Regions from separate parts of the Homo sapiens genome. Here all the other regions are reported to be linked to region 1. The links are microRNA targets in miRTarBase. Many come from high-throughput screens and were not tested one by one. Region 1 holds a microRNA gene; each other region holds the end of a gene's coding sequence.
What was found. The annotated mature microRNA hsa-miR-1185-2-3p reads AUAUACAGGGGGAGACUCUCAU and lies in region 1 at 2,703-2,724, shown strand. An mRNA with a match to its seed (bases 2 to 7 or 8) in the 3' UTR can be bound and repressed. Matches are read on the target gene's strand: a 7mer-m8 pairs with bases 2 to 8, a 7mer-A1 pairs with bases 2 to 7 and ends in A, and an 8mer does both.

Region 1 (4,334 bases):
TCTGTCTTGCTGTTTGTGACCTGGTTCTCTGACCCTCCTCATCTCATGCTTCCTTCCAAGAACTTTCTGGAAGAGATGCTGGCTTTGGAGATGATATAGGGTTTTCTCTTCAGACCACCTGTTCTGCCTAGCAAAAAGGGCCTACCTTGGCCGGGCACGGTGGCTCACGCTTGTAACCCCAGCCCTTTGGGAGGCTGAGACGGTGGATGGCTTAAGCCCAGGAGTTCGAAACTAGCGTGGGCAACTTGGCGAAACCCCATCTCTGCAAAAAATACAAAAATTAGCTGGGTGTCATGGTGTGCGCCTGTGGTCCCAGTACTTAGGAGGTTGAGGCTGGAGGATCACTTGAGCCCGGGAGTTGGGAGGTTGTAGTGAGCCAAGATTGTGCCACTGCACTTCAGCCTGGCTGACAGAGACCCCTGTCTCAACACAATAGGTTAAAAAAAAAAGAAAAGAACAAAGGGCCTCCCTTGATGGGCCCTACTTATCACAAAGCATCCATGGGCTGCTACTCCGGCAGGTCTGCCCAGCATGATGCCAGCCTCTGAGAAGAGGTCTCGTGGTCAGTGCATCTCCCAGATACATGAAAGAATGACCGTCAGCAAAGTCAATGTCTAATGTAGATGTGGGTCATCTGGTCTACCCACTCTCCATACCTAGCCCATCCTTGGAGTGACTTTTGGACCTCACTGTCCACTTGAGGGAAGGCCAGTCCACAGGAAGGAGGCCCCAGAGCACCCAGTGTGGCTACAGGACTTGCTGCTGGGACCTCTAAGCCCCACTGCTCTCTTAGTCCATTGGTGTCCTTTAGGGATTCTTGCCAATGGAAAGACCCTTGGATTCCTGGTGTTAGCATGTGTTTATTCAGAGAGAGTTGGCCCATGAGAATCTCATTTTCCTTTGACGAATCTTGCCCTAGATGAATACTTCTGAGTAACAACTAACTGCTCAGATGGCTTTCTGAATACAATGCCAAATTCAGGAGAAGGGACACTTGTCATAGTGCTGCTTTGTGATTTGCAAACGGAGTGCGTTGGATTTCTGTTTCTCTTTTTTCTTTAATGATGCATGTGACTGCATCTTCTAACCTCCCTTAGCCAGTGTTCACCAGGAGGGCTTCCTGGAGGCAGTGGCTTTGGGCAGAGGCAGAGGTTCTTCTCCCAGGGTGTTTTTGCAGGCCCTAAAGGGATTTCAGCCATTTTACATTTACATTATTTCAAATGGTACAGGATTGCCTGTCTTTTGGTAACCAATCCTGTCGTGAAGAGATGCTGGGAAGTAAAGTCAACTGTATGGCAGGCCCCAGCTCCAGGGCCAGCCAGATGAGGCTTGTCACCTGGCCCCTCCCCCTTGGTCTCAGGCCTCGCAGGAGGAGATGTCCACTCCGGCGAAGACCCGGCATAGTCCTCACCTGCTCTTTGAGCCACTCTTTGGTACTTGAAGAGAGGATACCCTTTGTATGTTCACTTGATTAATGGCGAATATACAGGGGGAGACTCTTATTTGCGTATCAAACTCTGTCGAGGAAGACGCTCAGACCCTGCTGTCTCCAGGACAAAGCCTCGGATGTCAGCCCCTCTCAGGTACGGCTTGGCTTCCCTGTCTGGGAACGTGAGCTTGGCTGTGATCCTAGCCCTTGGGTTCTGCCTTCGCTCTCTGTGCTGGTTCTTCCTGTGGACTCCCTGGAGGCAGTGGGAGAGGAGGGTCCTTTTTGTGTGCACTGAGTTTAATGGTGGTTTGCTTTTTTTAAGGATAAATCACATGGATCTGCCTCTTCTCCATACCAAGTCATACCCAGAGGGCTTCCTGCGTCCAGCACTAACCTCGCACCTCTCCGGACACACGAATGGGTGGTGGATGGTGGAGCGCAGAGCTGATGCTGCTTCTCACCTGCTACTCCCCTGACCTGCCACTCCCTGGTGGTCTCCATCCTTGAGAGAGTGTCAGCCTTGAGGGAAGCACATGGATGTCAGGTTGTTCTAAGGCAAGTTACTGGTGGAGCTCCCTGAGCCTGCCTGTGCCCTCTGGGACTGTCGCTGGACTCCAATGGCCAGTCCTCGGAGCACATTGTCCAGTGATTGCACCTGAGTGTGCCTTGGGCAGGTGTGTCTGGTCTTCAGGACTCCTTTGTCGCTAGAGTCTGACGCTGGGGCCCTCTTTTTGTTTGTTTCGAGGTAGGTACAGGTGACACATTCTTGGATCTGGTCATCTCTAGGACAACCAGCCTCAGAGGAGAGACATTGTCTCAGCGCTCTCCAGCTCTGAGAATGCCTGCAGATGCCTTCTTCTCTGATAACTCCATGTCTTGCCGGGCTGAGCCCTCACACCCTGTGCCCCTTTGGAGAAAGGTGATGGTTCCATTGTCCATGTAGCTTGTGGGTATTTGAAGCAGGTTCACCCATGCATGCTGAGCACACTGATAGTCATGCCTACCTGTTCCCTTGTTTAGAAGCCAGTCTCGCCTGCAGGGAGTCCTGGATGTGCCACCTTTCGGGGCCAGGCCACAATGTGCAAGGTGCAGGCCCAGCTCCAGGGTCAGCCAGATGAGGCTTGTCACCGGGCCCCTCCCCCTTGGTCTCAGGCCTCGCAGGAGGAGATGTCCACTCCGGCAAAGACCCGGCATGGTCCTCACCTGCTCTTTGAGCCACCCTTTGGTACTTAAAGAGAGGATACCCTTTGTATGTTCACTTGATTAATGGCGAATATACAGGGGGAGACTCTCATTTGCGTATCAAACTGTCGGAGAAGACACTCATACCCTGCTTGTCTCCAGGACAAAGCCTCGGATGTCAGCCCCTCTCAGGTATGGCCTGGCTTCCATGTCCGGGAACGTGAGGTTGGCTGTGACGCTGCCCCTGGGTTCTGCCTTCGCCCTCTATGCTGGTTCTTCCTGTGGACTCCCTGGAAGCAGTGGGAGAGGAGGGACCTTTTTGTGTGCTCCAAGTTTAATGGTGGTTTGCTTTTTTAAGGATAAATCACACATTGATCTGCCTCTTCTTGGTACCAAGTCATACACAGAAGGCTTCCTGTTCCCAGCATCAGCCTTAGAAGGGGGACCTGGATGTTGGATCATTTCAAGGGGAACACAGACAGCAGTGATGGTGGACCACGGAGCACTGGCTCTGTCTATGCTGTTTTCGAGCCTGGTAGGCCAGCCCCAGGAGGGCTTCCTGGAGGTGGTATTGACCTTGGGGAAGGGGCTGAGGTGTGCTCATCAGCGCTTTTTTTTTTTGATGCTTGGGTGTTCATGATCCAGCTCGCAGTCCCCAGGCTGAATCTGTAAGAATGGTTTGCTTCTATTTGTCATTTGTGATTGCCCATGAAGGCAGCGCTGGGGATGAGCCGTGGGAGCTGTCAGCCCCGCACCAGGTGCGTGCATGTGGGAGGTCAGAGGGCGCCTGCTTCTGCCTCGATGTCTGTGCCCCGTCTCTGACTGCTGGCTTTCTGCTCACACCTAGGATGGCTGCCTGAGAATGGGACTCTTGTTCTGTGTTTGTGGAGACACTCCTTGGGCCGTGTGACTGCCGGCTTTTTACACCCCGACTGCCATGGGGGTCATCTGGACCCGAAGCCAGCTTCAGGAAGGACATTCGCAGCATCCTCAGCCCAAGGAAAGCGAACGTCCAGCTGAAGAGAGGTGAGCACCACGCCTGGGTAATGAGTCACATAACCTGCCACCTGGACCAGGCGGCTCCCGCTCCTCTCCCCTTCTTGAAGGAGAGACCACTGTGGGGAATGGGCTGTGGGTCTGCTTCCTCAGTTACTTGGGGGTACGTGGGGTTTACTACTGTTGACCCTGTGCTCTTTCTTAGCATGGCTTCATGGCCACGATGCCAGCCTCTGGCAGGGGTGGGGCAAGGGCTGGCATGGAGAATGACACTGGTGTCAACGGCTCTGTGAGATGGATGAAGGGATGGTGACCACAGGGCCTTTGCTTTGTCTAAGGTGTAAATTCATCCAGTGCCTGGGACCTCGGTGCTGAGTGCATCCTTAGGAAAACTTCCTGGAGAGGTGCCCACACTGGGAAGGAGATGGTGGTCCCACCCCAGGGAATTCCTATAGAAAGTGAGAAGCTGAGCTCTGCGTGTGCCCAGGAAGGCCCGTGGGGTGGATCTCCTTTTCAGGAACAAGTTCTAATCTGGAGTGATGCCTGGAAAAGAGGCTGATTCTGGTGAAGGGGCACTGGCGTCTGCCCCTTCCTGGCCCCTTTGGGATGGAGAGCTGACCTATGGGCACACAGCTGGCAGGTGGTGTTTGCCACCTGGTCTGCTGATCCCGCATCTCCCACCCCCTCCCCCGCCAGGATGAACCCCGGGAGAGGAGGCCGGCCCCGT
Region 2 (4,202 bases), not on the chromosome of region 1:
TGTACGCTGTGGGCTCTCAGTCCCACGTCTCCTTCCTGGATCCGCGCCAGCGCCAGCAGAACATCCGGCCCCTGTGCTCTCGAGAGGGTGGCACAGGCGTGCGGTCGCTGAGCTTCTACCAGCACATCATCACTGTGGGCACCGGCCATGGTTCCCTGCTCTTCTATGACATCCGCGCCCAGAAGTTCCTGGAGGAGAGGGCCTCTTCCAGCCTGGACTCCATGCCGGGGCCCGCAGGGAGGAAGCTCAAGCTTGCCTGCGGCAGAGGCTGGCTCAACCAAGATGACGTCTGGGTGAACTACTTTGGTGGCATGGGAGAGTTCCCCAATGCGCTCTACACCCACTGCTACAACTGGCCGGAGATGAAGCTCTTTGTGGCTGGGGGGCCTCTCCCTTCAGGCCTCCATGGGAACTACGCAGGCCTCTGGAGTTAAGGATGGACGCCTTGTTCTCAAAGTGCACAGGTTTACCTTTCAGTTCCGCCTGACTTTCCTTCTTCATGCTGCATTTGTGCTTTTAACTTTGTGTGGCTTTTGTCTTCCAGGTGGAACCAGTCCAACTTACGTGTGCTTAATGTATTAGGCAGAGAAAGAAAGAGAGAGAGCGGGAGCGAGAGAGCACAAGTGGTCCTTTCGGCAGTCAAAACTTTGGCTTTAAAACTCTCATTCACGTTTCCCAACAGCAGTATATTTTTGCCTTCTCATTCAAAGAGTTTTGGCTAAACCTTAATTGTGTTCTGTCTTTCAGTGATTCACATACCCTCCTTCTTTAGGTTGATGTAGTCATAGTCTTCACTACTATTCAGTACGTTAGTTTTATCAATATTGCAATAGTGTTCAGATCTTTTACACATGTTAGATGTGTGGTGTTTTGGGGAAATGTGAGCTACAAAGCATCTTTGGGGTTGTTTTGAGGAACTACCCATCATTTATAGCCTTACTCTAATTACAAAATGCAGTTCAGGTTCTAGATTGCCACCATTCTAGAGTGTGGCACACACCATTCTAGGGCGTGATTCATTTGGATGTTGGAAACTCAATGTCTGTTGTTTGTATAGTGTTGATGTGTAAAATGCTTTAAAAATATGTTCTGTTAGTTAGAAATCTTACAATGTTGTTCATACTATTAATCAACATTTTTGGTTATTCAGTAAAACTTTACTATCCTCAGGCCCTCCGTGTTCTTATTTAAAGCCGCTGTATTATGGCCTGCTTTTCTATGCTACAGATTTTCAGAACTACTCAATTCTGGTCTATATATGTGGTAGTGCAATCAGGGAGGTATTTTTGGGGGTATATGGGGTACACATCTCTTTAAATTCAGGTAGCTATTTACAGTGAAAAGCCAGTTGTGGCAGTTGTGCTCAGAGTAGGTGTTGATTTTTTATTACTGTATACATGGATAATTCTGGATCCAGTATGTGATGTGTTGCAGAAAAATAAATAAAATGTGTTCATCATCTTAGCAATTAAGTGGCAGACTTAAGTTCTTAATACTTAAATATATGCTTTCTTTTTTCATTTGTCTTTCTGAGAACGTATTTATCAAAGTCAAAACTTTCCAGGACAGAAGCTGAATCTGAAGCATTAGCTATGCAGACATTACTTTGTACATCTCTTTTTGAAAATGAAACTTATAAGTTAAAAGATTAAACAACATCTTGAATACGTTATGAAAATATACTTGGTGTAAGTTAGGATGGCTAAGTGTTTTTTAAAGTTGACTGAACAAACCATTTTTCATTTATACAAATATACATGTACTTATAACTACTTACATATATAATATATTTGTATATCTGTTTGTATATGTTACTTCCCATGTGAGAAGAAAGCATAGATATATATCATTTTATATGTGCAGCTATTTCTTATATATTGAACTACACATATTAAGACTTACCACTTGGTCTTTATTTGTGTTTTGTTTTATGCCAATTTAAAATAATTTTAATACAAGCACATGATCAAAAAACCATACAGTATAAAAAGTATACAGTTAAAAGTAAATCTCAAACCCCGGGGTCTCTAGTTTCCAGCCCATAGATTAGCACTAGTATATTTTTTGCATATACATATTTAGATTTAGTCTATATATATACAAGAACACATGTATGTGTGTATGGAATTTTTATACAAATAATAACATACTGTATGTATCTGTGCCTTTTTAATCACAAAATCTTAGTGATTTTTTCTTATACTTATCTACTTAATTTTATTGCATGCTGTTCTATTGTGTGATTGGAATACACTTGACTTATTCATTACACCTTTGATGATCATTTATGTTGGTTCTGGTTTTCTGTTACTGTAAACTATTCTGCAGTGATTACTTAAGTGTATACATCTTTGTGTACAAGCATAAATATATCTGCAGGATAATTCCGAGAAATGAAATTACTGGTTCAATGAGTAAGTTCATTTTATATTAATAGCCATTGCTAAATCATCTTCCAAGGAGTTCTCACCACCTTAACCTCCTACAAGTAATGGATGCACACCTGCTTTACCACACCCATGCCAACAGTGTGTCACCAAACTGTGCTCTTTGCCAATCTTACATCTACTTGATCTTGATCCTTTCTTTCTAAGCCACTGTGGCTGAGTTAATTCAATTTGTTGTCAGAGTACCAAGTGGGTTCTGAAACAAAGAACAAGAAAATGAAGGCAAGCAGTAAAAATGCTGCCACGCTAAAGGAAGAGAGTACCCACCATTCAGGCTCATGTACCTGGAAATGGATTACACACAGCTACTTTCCTTATATACTTAGCTGGACCTAGTAGGTTTCCCTGGTCTGTTGCACCCAGTTTAAGTTATACCCAACGTATGAGATGTCACTGAAGAAAATCCAAGAAGGAGACCACGAAAATCTGAACTAGGATAGTGGGGTAAGTGTGGAGAGGGAGAAAGTTATTCAAAACAATGAGGGGAAATAAAAGGAACAAACAGTATTTCATGTGAAAGATGAGGAAAACCAAAAAAATTAGGTGGACTCTCAGGCTCTGACTTGAATGTGAATGAATATTGACAGCAAATAAAAATAAAGAAAATAGGCATAGATAGTATGGGGGAGGATGATCAGTTTAACTTGGGACTTACTGAATTTGAGGTGCCTCTGTGACATCAGGAGAACATACCCAGTGAAGAATTGGCTGTGTACCCCAGGATGCAATTTCTCACTTCTGGGAAGGTGAGTGCTATGAAACACTGGAAATCTTGTCCTTTCAGGGGAAAGTAGAAGAGAAAAGCATATGAAGGATCTTTAAAACAATGAAAAGAGAGAAAGCCTGCCTCAGTGGCTCACACCTGTAATCCTAGCACTTTGGGAGGCTAAGGTAGGCAGATTGCTCGAGCCCGGGAGTTCCAGAGCAAGATGGGGAAAATGGTGAAACCTCATCTCTACATAAAATACAAAATTTGGCCGGGTGTAGTGGTACGCGCCTGTAGTTTCAGCTCCTCGGGAGGCTGAAGTGGGAGGATCACTTGAGCCCAGGAGGTTAAAGTTGCAGTGAGTAGAGATCATGCCACTGCACCCCAGCCTGGGTGACAGAGTGAGACCCTGTCTCAATAAATAAATAAACAAACAAATAAGTAAATAAAAGGAAATTTAAAAAAAAAGCTGGGATGGGGAAGAAAATGGTAGAGAATGATAGAGGCTTATTCTACACAAATTTTGTGACCTTAGCGTGAGACAACAATATATCTTTTAATACTAAAATTATAACGATTTTGAGTCTCCACCTAAAAGCCGTAAAGGACAGCTTTTCTCCCAGATAATCTTCCTAAATATTTACCTACGACTCCTTAAGACTGTCCACATTGGTCCACTAATTAGGCTTTTGAATTGCTCAACTGCTGGTTTTATCTTGGAGAATGAAAAGTCAGACCTAGCTCACAAAGCAGGGCTTCAGAGTTAATTATTTCTGGACCACTTATTCTCCTGTTCTGAGACATATCCAGTATTCCCAACACCCAGCTGGCACCAGCATCCTTGACAGTCTCACAGCAGTGGAATATCACCTCATCAGCAGCTGCTGCGAGCCCCTGTTTAAGTTCTCACTTCAATACCACAAGTGTAGGTCTCTGCCAACTTTCCCAGTCTTGCAAAAAGCAAAGGAGGTGTCCAGAGGAGGATACTGCTTTCCACAGGATTACAATAAAAGAGCACAAATGCAAATTATTAGAAGTGAGAGAGAAGA
Region 3 (4,202 bases), not on the chromosome of region 1:
AAGAACCAATATCGTGAAAATGGCCATACTGCCCAAAATAATTTATAAATTCAATGCTATCCCCATCAAGCTACCATTGACTTTCTTCACAGAATTAGAAAAAACTACTTTAAATTTCAATATATTGGCCCACTACCTTCTGGCCTCTAGTTTCTGATGAGCAATCTGCTGATAATCTTATTGAGCAGCAGTCCCCAACCTTTTTGGCACCAGCGACTGGTTTTGTGGAAGACAATTATTCCACAGACCAGGGGGCACAGGACGATGGTTTTGGAATGGAACTGTCCCACCTCAGATCATCAGGCATTAGATTCTTATAAGGAGTGTGCAACCTCGATCCCTGGCACGTGCAGTTAGTTCATAAGAAGGCTTGCATGCCTATGAAAATCTAATGTCACCACTGATCTGACAGGAGGCAGAGCTCAGGTGGTAATGCTCACTCACCCACCACTCACCTCTTGCTGTGTGGTCTGGTACCTAACAGACTGTTAACAGTCTGTGGCCCAGGGCTTGGGGACCTGTTACTGAGGATCCTTTGTATGTAGCAAGTTGCTTCTCCCTTGTTGCTTTCAAAATTCTCTGGCTTTGGCTTCTGAAATGTTGGTATCTGTGTGGTCTCTTTGAGTTCATCTTACTTGGAATTTGTTGAGCTACTTGGATGCTTATATTCAGGTCTTTCATCAAATTTAGGAAGTCTTCAGCCATTATTTCTTCAAGTATTCTCTCTCTCCCTCAACCCCACTTCTGGAACTGCCAACATGAAGGCCAGCACTGTGGCAGGAACCAGGCAAATACTGGAGGTTAGTTATTTCTCTGCCATGTACTCCCCATTGGTTTATGCTGATCATTCCAGTAGAACCACTTTGAAATAAATCAGCTATATTCATAATCTGAAATCAAACACAATAACCAGTTTGCATAAATATAACATCTAAAAAACCATCTGCACCAAAACAGATAGAACCAAAATACAAATAACCCACAAGAAAAAGTAAGAAGTATATGGAGGTTATAATTCTTAATAGAAAGAGACTCCTACATGTCAGTAAGAAAAAACTTGACCATAAGGACTGCCAAATCTGAACAAAATACATCAGATAAGAACTAAAAATGGCCATGAACACGAGGACATATTCAACATGACCAGACACAACACTTATTTGCCTATCAAATTGTTAAAGAGTTATTTTAATCTTGAGCACATGTCCATTGCCAACATTACTTGGCATCTGCAAAGAGGCCTTTTCCATGCTGTCATCCTGCCCTTCTGGAGGGCAGCAGGTACCCAAAGCTTCACACCTGGCATGAACTCTGACCCACTCACTCTACCTATAAGAACTGAGCCCAAGGCAGTAATTGTAATCATGGCAGTGTAAACGTGCATCTGGGCTCACTGCAGTCCTGTTGAAACAACGCTGATGTACGGCAATACAGCAAATACTACATTTACTCATGGCACACTTGTAAAATACAGCCACTGAAACATGTAGAAGAATATATGTAATAGATTTTAAAGTCTATAATTTATTAAGTACAAAAGCAAATTATTTAAAAAAGCACTTGATCCTAATTTTGTAAAAAATTTTTAAAAAGAAAAAATAAATCCCTGAGAGGGTTTATGTTACATACGAATGCTGCTGTTTACTCAGAGGTAGAATTATAAGAAATTTTAATTTTCTTTATACTTTAATGTGCTTTCTAGATTTTATGCTATAAGCATAACTGCTTTTATAGTCAGAAAAAAAGCAAAATAAGATACAACCTATTCGGGGTAATTTAAAGACCCTTTTCACACATTTCAAAATGCAGAATTACAAAGTCAATAACTTTTATTAACATAATGATATAAAAATTTTAGTGTGATATACAGAATTCCCAGAGTAATTCTAAAACATTTTAATGCACTTCTTAAAATCTTAATTTACAAGACACCTTGTCTTACCACCACTGACCTTTCAATACAAAAAGCTGACAATTTTTGTTTGCTATAAAACTACAACATTAAGATTGGAGTTAGGTAGTTTTTTTTTTTTTTTCTTTCCCTTCCCAGCCATTCTATTGTAAGGAATGTCCATTAGACTACTTCCCAAACCTCTGTATGTCAACAATAAGTTACATAGATTCTGTACATACTTACAACAGGATTATTAGAATTCCAGTATGTCACAACATACTTTACCACAGTCCAACACCATGGGGAAACAGGGCTACTATGCACAGTGCTATTTGTAGCCAGACAGGAGTAAAACATGAGAGCTGGCCCAGTTAGCCAGACTCATGTGTGGAGAATTAATAACAGCTTTGTTAGGCACTGATCCAGACTAATTCTGGAAAAACCTGGTTGTTTCTGTGAAGCATGCATGATTCACAAAATTTGCCACCCTCAATACCCCAAAAACCCAACAATTTCGTAACATACTCTTCATTAGCTATATAAAAATAATCTATGTCTTAGATTCGTGCTTGACTTCAAATTCTTAGAAGTAACTAAAGGACTTTACATTCTCTTCTTTGATTTAGGTTCTGTATAATTTTAGATCACTCAGCTTAGTCAAGTTTGAACAAAATAATAAAATGGTTTGGCCAAATTTTATAGGCACACAACTCAAAATGCAAAAAGCAGTGAAGAATGTAACCATCTCCACCTTCAATACGGGGCAATGCTGTTCCCTGCTCCCCTCAACTGTACTGCCGGTACTCACCAAACAGCACTATGGATATGAAAACCTTAGACTTTACCACAATGCTTCCAAATCTGCTGACTTGGAATAAAAATAATAAATCAGTACACTTCCACGAGAAGAATTAATATTGTAGTGTTAGGAAAACTAGCAATTTAACTAAACAGCATCAAGTTACAAACCAGGAAAGTGATTTAAAACTAAATGCTGGCTTATCTTTCTGAAACAAAGCATCTAAATTTGACAGTCCAAAATGGCACTTATTGAGTGTCCGTGACAATACATGCTGACAAGCAGCACACCTCTTTTTTGTTTTTTTAAGACGGCATCTCGTGCTGTCACCCAGGCTGGAGTGCAGTAGCGTGATCTCGGCTCACTGCAAGCTCCGCCTCCCTGGTTCATACCATTCTCCTGCCTCAGCCTCCCAAGTAGCTGGGACTACAGGCGCCCACCACCACACCCGGCTAATTTTTTGTATTTTTAGTAGAGACAGGGTTTCACCATGTTAGCCAGGATGGTCTCGGTCTCCTGACCTCGTGATCTGCTCGCCTCGGCCTCCCAAAGTGCTGGGATTACAGGTGTAAGCCACCGTGGCCAGCCAGCACACCTCTTTCAATAAAGGAACTGGCAGAGGAGGCACTGTGTGTGACCACAGTGCCCTCTGTGAGCAGGGAGGATGGGTCCAGCTTGCTTCCTTTTTCCATCAGCCTCCCTGTGAAACAGAAGTGAGGCAGCTGGTTTGTACTCTGCTATCTTCCCAGAATCAAGTTTCTCCCCGTAAATGGTCTCAAGTTTCTCCCGTAAATTCTATATATGAACTTGTCATTTGAAGTGGGAATAAATAACTGAATTTTAAAAATCAGGAACTATATTTTTAGCCTAAAGAAAGTGCAAACTTGCAGTACAGCAGAGAACAACCTCGGTGCCTGTGATTCCTCACAATGCCCATGCCAGGCCTTTCCTTTCCTTTCCTTGTCTCTCCATCTGTTAAAATACCAGCATCCGTGTTTTTGTAAATGTACTTGGCAGATTCAAAATATTTCTTTAAATAATTCAGGAAGTGCTTTCTAAAAGGAGATGCGGGGATTGTTGAGAGGGATCTGTAAGAGCACAGGAAGGGCGAGTCCCGGTGAGTGAGCTCTGCGGTGTCTTCCCACATCACACCTTGGACTGCTGGGGCTCATTCATCTCCGGCACCTGGGCCGGTGTGCTGCGCTCACATGTTGTAGGCGACATAGATGGGGTCCAGCTGGTCAGCCAGGAAGCCGTCCCGCAGGTGCATGCGCTGCTTCTCACCCCGAGAGTTGATAGGGATCACCCCTGGGTCCACGATGACCACCACTCCCACGACCAGGTAGTGCTCCTCCAGCACCACGTTGGTCACCAGGGCCACCAGGTCCAGGGCATCCTGCTCTAGCCCATCCAGCTCCACCACCACCACCAGCAGGTTGGTCCAGGTGAATACGGCACTGCAGAGAGAAGACAGACTGGGTCACATGGATACAGGCACAGGTCACAGGG
Region 4 (4,202 bases), not on the chromosome of region 1:
TGTCCACATCCACAGAGGGGCTCAAGATCCCCATGACTCCTACATCCTCTTTTGTGTCTCCGCCACCACCCACTGCCTCACCTCATTCCAACCGGACCACACCGCCTGAAGCGGCCCAGAATGGCCAGTCCCCCATGGCAGCCCTGATCTTAGTAGCAGACAATGCAGGGGGCAGTCATGCCTCAAAAGATGCCAACCAGGTTCACTCCACTACCAGGAGGAATAGCAACAGTCCGCCCTCTCCGTCCTCTATGAACCAAAGAAGGCTGGGCCCCAGAGAGGTGGGGGGCCAGGGAGCAGGCAACACAGGAGGACTGGAGCCAGTGCACCCTGCCAGCCTCCCGGACTCCTCTCTGGCAACCAGTGCCCCGCTGTGCTGCACCCTCTGCCACGAGCGGCTGGAGGACACCCATTTTGTGCAGTGCCCGTCCGTCCCTTCGCACAAGTTCTGCTTCCCTTGCTCCAGACAAAGCATCAAACAGCAGGGAGCTAGTGGAGAGGTCTATTGTCCCAGTGGGGAAAAATGCCCTCTTGTGGGCTCCAATGTCCCCTGGGCCTTTATGCAAGGGGAAATTGCAACCATCCTTGCTGGAGATGTGAAAGTGAAAAAAGAGAGAGACTCGTGACTTTTCCGGTTTCAGAAAAACCCAATGATTACCCTTAATTAAAACTGCTTGAATTGTATATATATCTCCATATATATATATATCCAAGACAAGGGAAATGTAGACTTCATAAACATGGCTGTATAATTTTGATTTTTTTTGAATACATTGTGTTTCTATATTTTTTTTGACGACAAAAGGTATGTACTTATAAAGACATTTTTTTCTTTTGTTAACGTTATTAGCATATCTTTGTGCTTTATTATCCTGGTGACAGTTACCGTTCTATGTAGGCTGTGACTTGCGCTGCTTTTTTAGAGCACTTGGCAAATCAGAAATGCTTCTAGCTGTATTTGTATGCACTTATTTTAAAAAGAAAAAAAAAGCCAAATACATTTTCTGACATTGTAAGATTGCCTTACTGTCTGTCATTCCTTATTGCTGGCCCCTTTCTCAGGCCGGAGGCCAAGTGGTGGAGAAGGAAAGGAAATGATCGAACGGGCATGTTGTCAAGTGGGCATGCCACTGGGAAATACCACCAGTTTACCCTGAAACATTGTCCTCAGAGGAGTAGGAAAGTGGATTTTGAATCTCTATTTTGCTCAAAAGTTCAGTTCCTGAGATACTGATGACTGAGAGTGCTGCTGGGAAATTTTCAGGATTGTGTGGTCTTTTGGGGTTTTTTGTTTTTTTTTTTTTAAGACAAAGTTGACCGCTGTTCACTGTCCACGTGATCAGTTGTAAGATTACAATGCTGCATGCTAGTTGGTTACATAAGATACAATTCCAGTGATGGAAGGCGGTTATAATGGATGGTGGTGTGTACAAGATGGCACTGCCATCTTTGAGCAGAGCCCAGCTCTGCAGCGCCACTTCATCTTTTTAAACACCCTAGAGGTCTGTTTGTTGTTGCTGTTGTCCTTTATTTTGAAAGAGTTGCAAGAGAAGTTACAGTCCAGGTGAACTTGGAGATTGTGGGATTGGTTTTGTTTCTGTTTTGTTTTGTTTATCATTTACCTGTAGTGCTATTGCTGTTGATACTATCACCTATACCCTGTTTCTAGTGAGTGCTGAATACAGTATGGTACAATGACAGTAACAGCCGCGTGGTGCTGCCAGGACTGCCCTTGGGCATATCAGTGACAGCCCAAATGTGGGTGGAGGAAACCTGTAATTTCCTTCTTAACATGTGTTTGAAATACCAAGTGAATAATACTGTTCTGGAAAAAAATGATAAACTAGTGGAAATTAAAGAAATTAAGGGTTTTATATAATAGACAGGCCCCACCTCTCAAAATATTTTTAGAAGTCTTTTTGTAAACTAATTTCTTTTGATCACTATTTTGCATCAGTAAAATGATTTTTTTAAAACCAATAAATCATCAATTATTAGAAATAGTTGTCTCACAGTGATACTGGTTTTTCTTTTGTGCTGTTATGATTTAACATTGACAGGAACACTATTTTAAATCCTTACGTTCAGGTGTTTGTAACTTGGCCTTATAATTAGGCTGAATTATGGCTTCAAGGTCTACAATTTATGTGTATGGTTCACAGCCTAGCTTCTATTTACATTTGAAAATACAGATTTTTACCAACTTTGGATTCTTTTTTAGTTATATGTTTGTCTTTCCTTTTTAAATTGTTCAAAACTATTTTTTAATGGTCAAGTTACTAACACTTGAAAATCAGATACTGCACCAAATACAGTGTTTTTCCGTAGTGTTTTTAATGAGTGCACCTATTACTACTGTGCGAGAATTCATGTTTTACCAGTCATTGTTATATTACAAACAGACTTGCATGATTAACCAGTTGTTACACTTACTTTTTCAAGTTGGAGTATATATGACTCAGTGCAGACTGGTCTCTCTTATGTGAATGCACACATGCAGAAATGCAGAGTCAATTTTACATGCCCATAAAGACATTTGTAAAGAATTCAGCTCTTATGGTCTGTTGTATAAATGTGTATCTAGGCACTTTGGAATTTGACCTCACAGATGTTACAACTTGATCAGTCGTTTGACCTAATTTGTGGTAGCTATCTGTATGTTTTGCAATCTTAATACAGACATGCTTTCCAAAAAGATTAATACAGAACCATCCTGCCGTTTTGGATAAGTCTATCCAGCTGTGGAAAGGGCAACCTGTGGTTTCTCTGTACTGGTGTTTAATGGGGGAAGAATATGAACAGCTTTAAAGAGCTGTGTATTGTGGTTACTACTATTAAAAAATAAGATCTGCACGAGTCTGACTGGCCTTTGGGTGGCCTTTGTGGACGGCTCGTAGCTGGAAAGTGTTGATCTGGGTTTTCTGGCATTCTTTTAAGTTAAAAAGTTAACATCGGGACATGGGTTTGATCTTTTGTTGTACCTGATGACAGTGCAGAGATTCTCCACAGCTGGATAAAAATGTCACAAAGCTACTTACTGTACATGGGCAGTATCAGATTTCAAATCCTAATATTTCAGCTGTGCTTTTAATACTCAAAATATTAGGGGATGGGGTGTTGAAGCTTTCCCTTTTTTGCTTTTAACAATTTATAGAATTTAACAGATGTACTGTCTTTCATGTGGCCTCACATTTAAAGTTATGAGAACATACACATGGTTTACAACTTTTACTATATACCTTTCCTTGGCCACCAAGTATTTTAAAAGTGTGCCACCTTTTAACCTTTACTTTTTTTAAGTTGAAGGTGATACTTTTTCTATATATGATGAAACTCATGTCAACTGAAGTGAGTGTAATCTCAGATACCAACATTATTATATTTTAAAATCACGCTATGGAAATATCACCTGAATTCTGTCATTTGTCAGATTTACAGTACCTTTTTTTCTTTAACTTTTAGCATTAAATAAAAATAAAATTGGGAGCACTGAACATTTTCTGAGGCCTTTTTTAATTTTCTAAAGCAAGCTTAGAATGGCTATTGTTTTAATCACTAATGGCAATGTGACTAAAGGATGTGTGGGTTTGGGGTTGGGGTTTGCCTGAACTTCAGGAGATAAAAGACATGGAACAAAAAGGCAACTGATGGTATAAAATAGAAGTGCCAGGGACTGCGGAAAGGGCAACTGGATAGGGGACACAGATAAAAGAGCTGAACAAAGTACGGCTAGAAAGCATTTGTTTATTTTTCAACTAGCAGCAGAACCAGCCATTCTGCAATGGTAGATTGGAAAGAGAAGATAGTGACGACACTGGAAAGACTCTCAAGACCTGGAGCTGCTCTTTGAAAAGCTTTGGAATAAAACAGCTACGTTGGGCCATAGGAAATGCGCTAAAGACAAAAGGGATTTAAAAAAAAAAAAAGCCTTATACTTTGGAAAGCTTAGGAATGAAAAAAGCCAAAGCCATGTATGAGCTTTATTGATATCCTGAAACTTAAATTTATAAATAGAGATAAAAGGTAGAAAGCACTGAGACACATTTTACTGGCTACTCTCATATAATAAGAAATTTCCTAGATGTTGCAGCTTTTACTCTTTTTATTGATTAATGGCTTGGCAGACTTCTCTATGAAAGGAAGTTGTGAAACTCATAAAGAGTTGGAGGCTAGGATATACATAGAGTTACTATATGTTTTAA

Region 2: the mRNA of DCAF12L2 is a reported target of hsa-miR-1185-2-3p. Seed matches in the 3' UTR shown: 7mer-m8 at 1,390-1,396.
Region 3: the mRNA of DIP2A is a reported target of hsa-miR-1185-2-3p. Seed matches in the 3' UTR shown: 7mer-m8 at 1,864-1,870.
Region 4: miRTarBase lists IRF2BP2 as a target of hsa-miR-1185-2-3p. Seed matches in the 3' UTR shown: 8mer at 745-752 and 7mer-A1 at 2,566-2,572.

The regions. Positions count from the first base shown.
Region 1 is chr14:101,041,548-101,045,881 of GRCh38, forward strand. MIR1185-2 (microRNA 1185-2) reads left to right here and starts at 2,651; the gene lies at 2,651-2,736. MIR1185-1 (microRNA 1185-1) reads left to right here and starts at 1,430; the gene lies at 1,430-1,515. MIR381HG (MIR381 host gene) reads left to right here and starts at 3,610. Exons shown (of 3, transcript NR_104192.1): 1 at 3,610-3,637. RefSeq lists an enhancer at 4,218-4,334.
Region 2 is chrX:126,160,765-126,164,966 of GRCh38, reverse strand. It overlaps DCAF12L2 (DDB1 and CUL4 associated factor 12 like 2), which reads left to right. Exons shown (of 1, transcript NM_001013628.3): 1 at 1-1,468. The coding sequence ends at 434. Among named protein-coding and RNA genes, the nearest start is that of DCAF12L2, 3.4 kb to the left of the region's middle.
Region 3 is chr21:46,567,318-46,571,519 of GRCh38, reverse strand. It overlaps DIP2A (disco interacting protein 2 homolog A), which reads right to left. Exons shown (of 38, transcript NM_015151.4): 38 at 1,505-4,150. The coding sequence ends at 3,898. Among named protein-coding and RNA genes, the nearest start is that of S100B, 36 kb to the left of the region's middle.
Region 4 is chr1:234,603,561-234,607,762 of GRCh38, reverse strand. IRF2BP2 (interferon regulatory factor 2 binding protein 2) reads left to right here. Exons shown (of 2, transcript NM_182972.3): 2 at 1-3,494. The coding sequence ends at 626. Among named protein-coding and RNA genes, the nearest start is that of IRF2BP2, 4.5 kb to the left of the region's middle.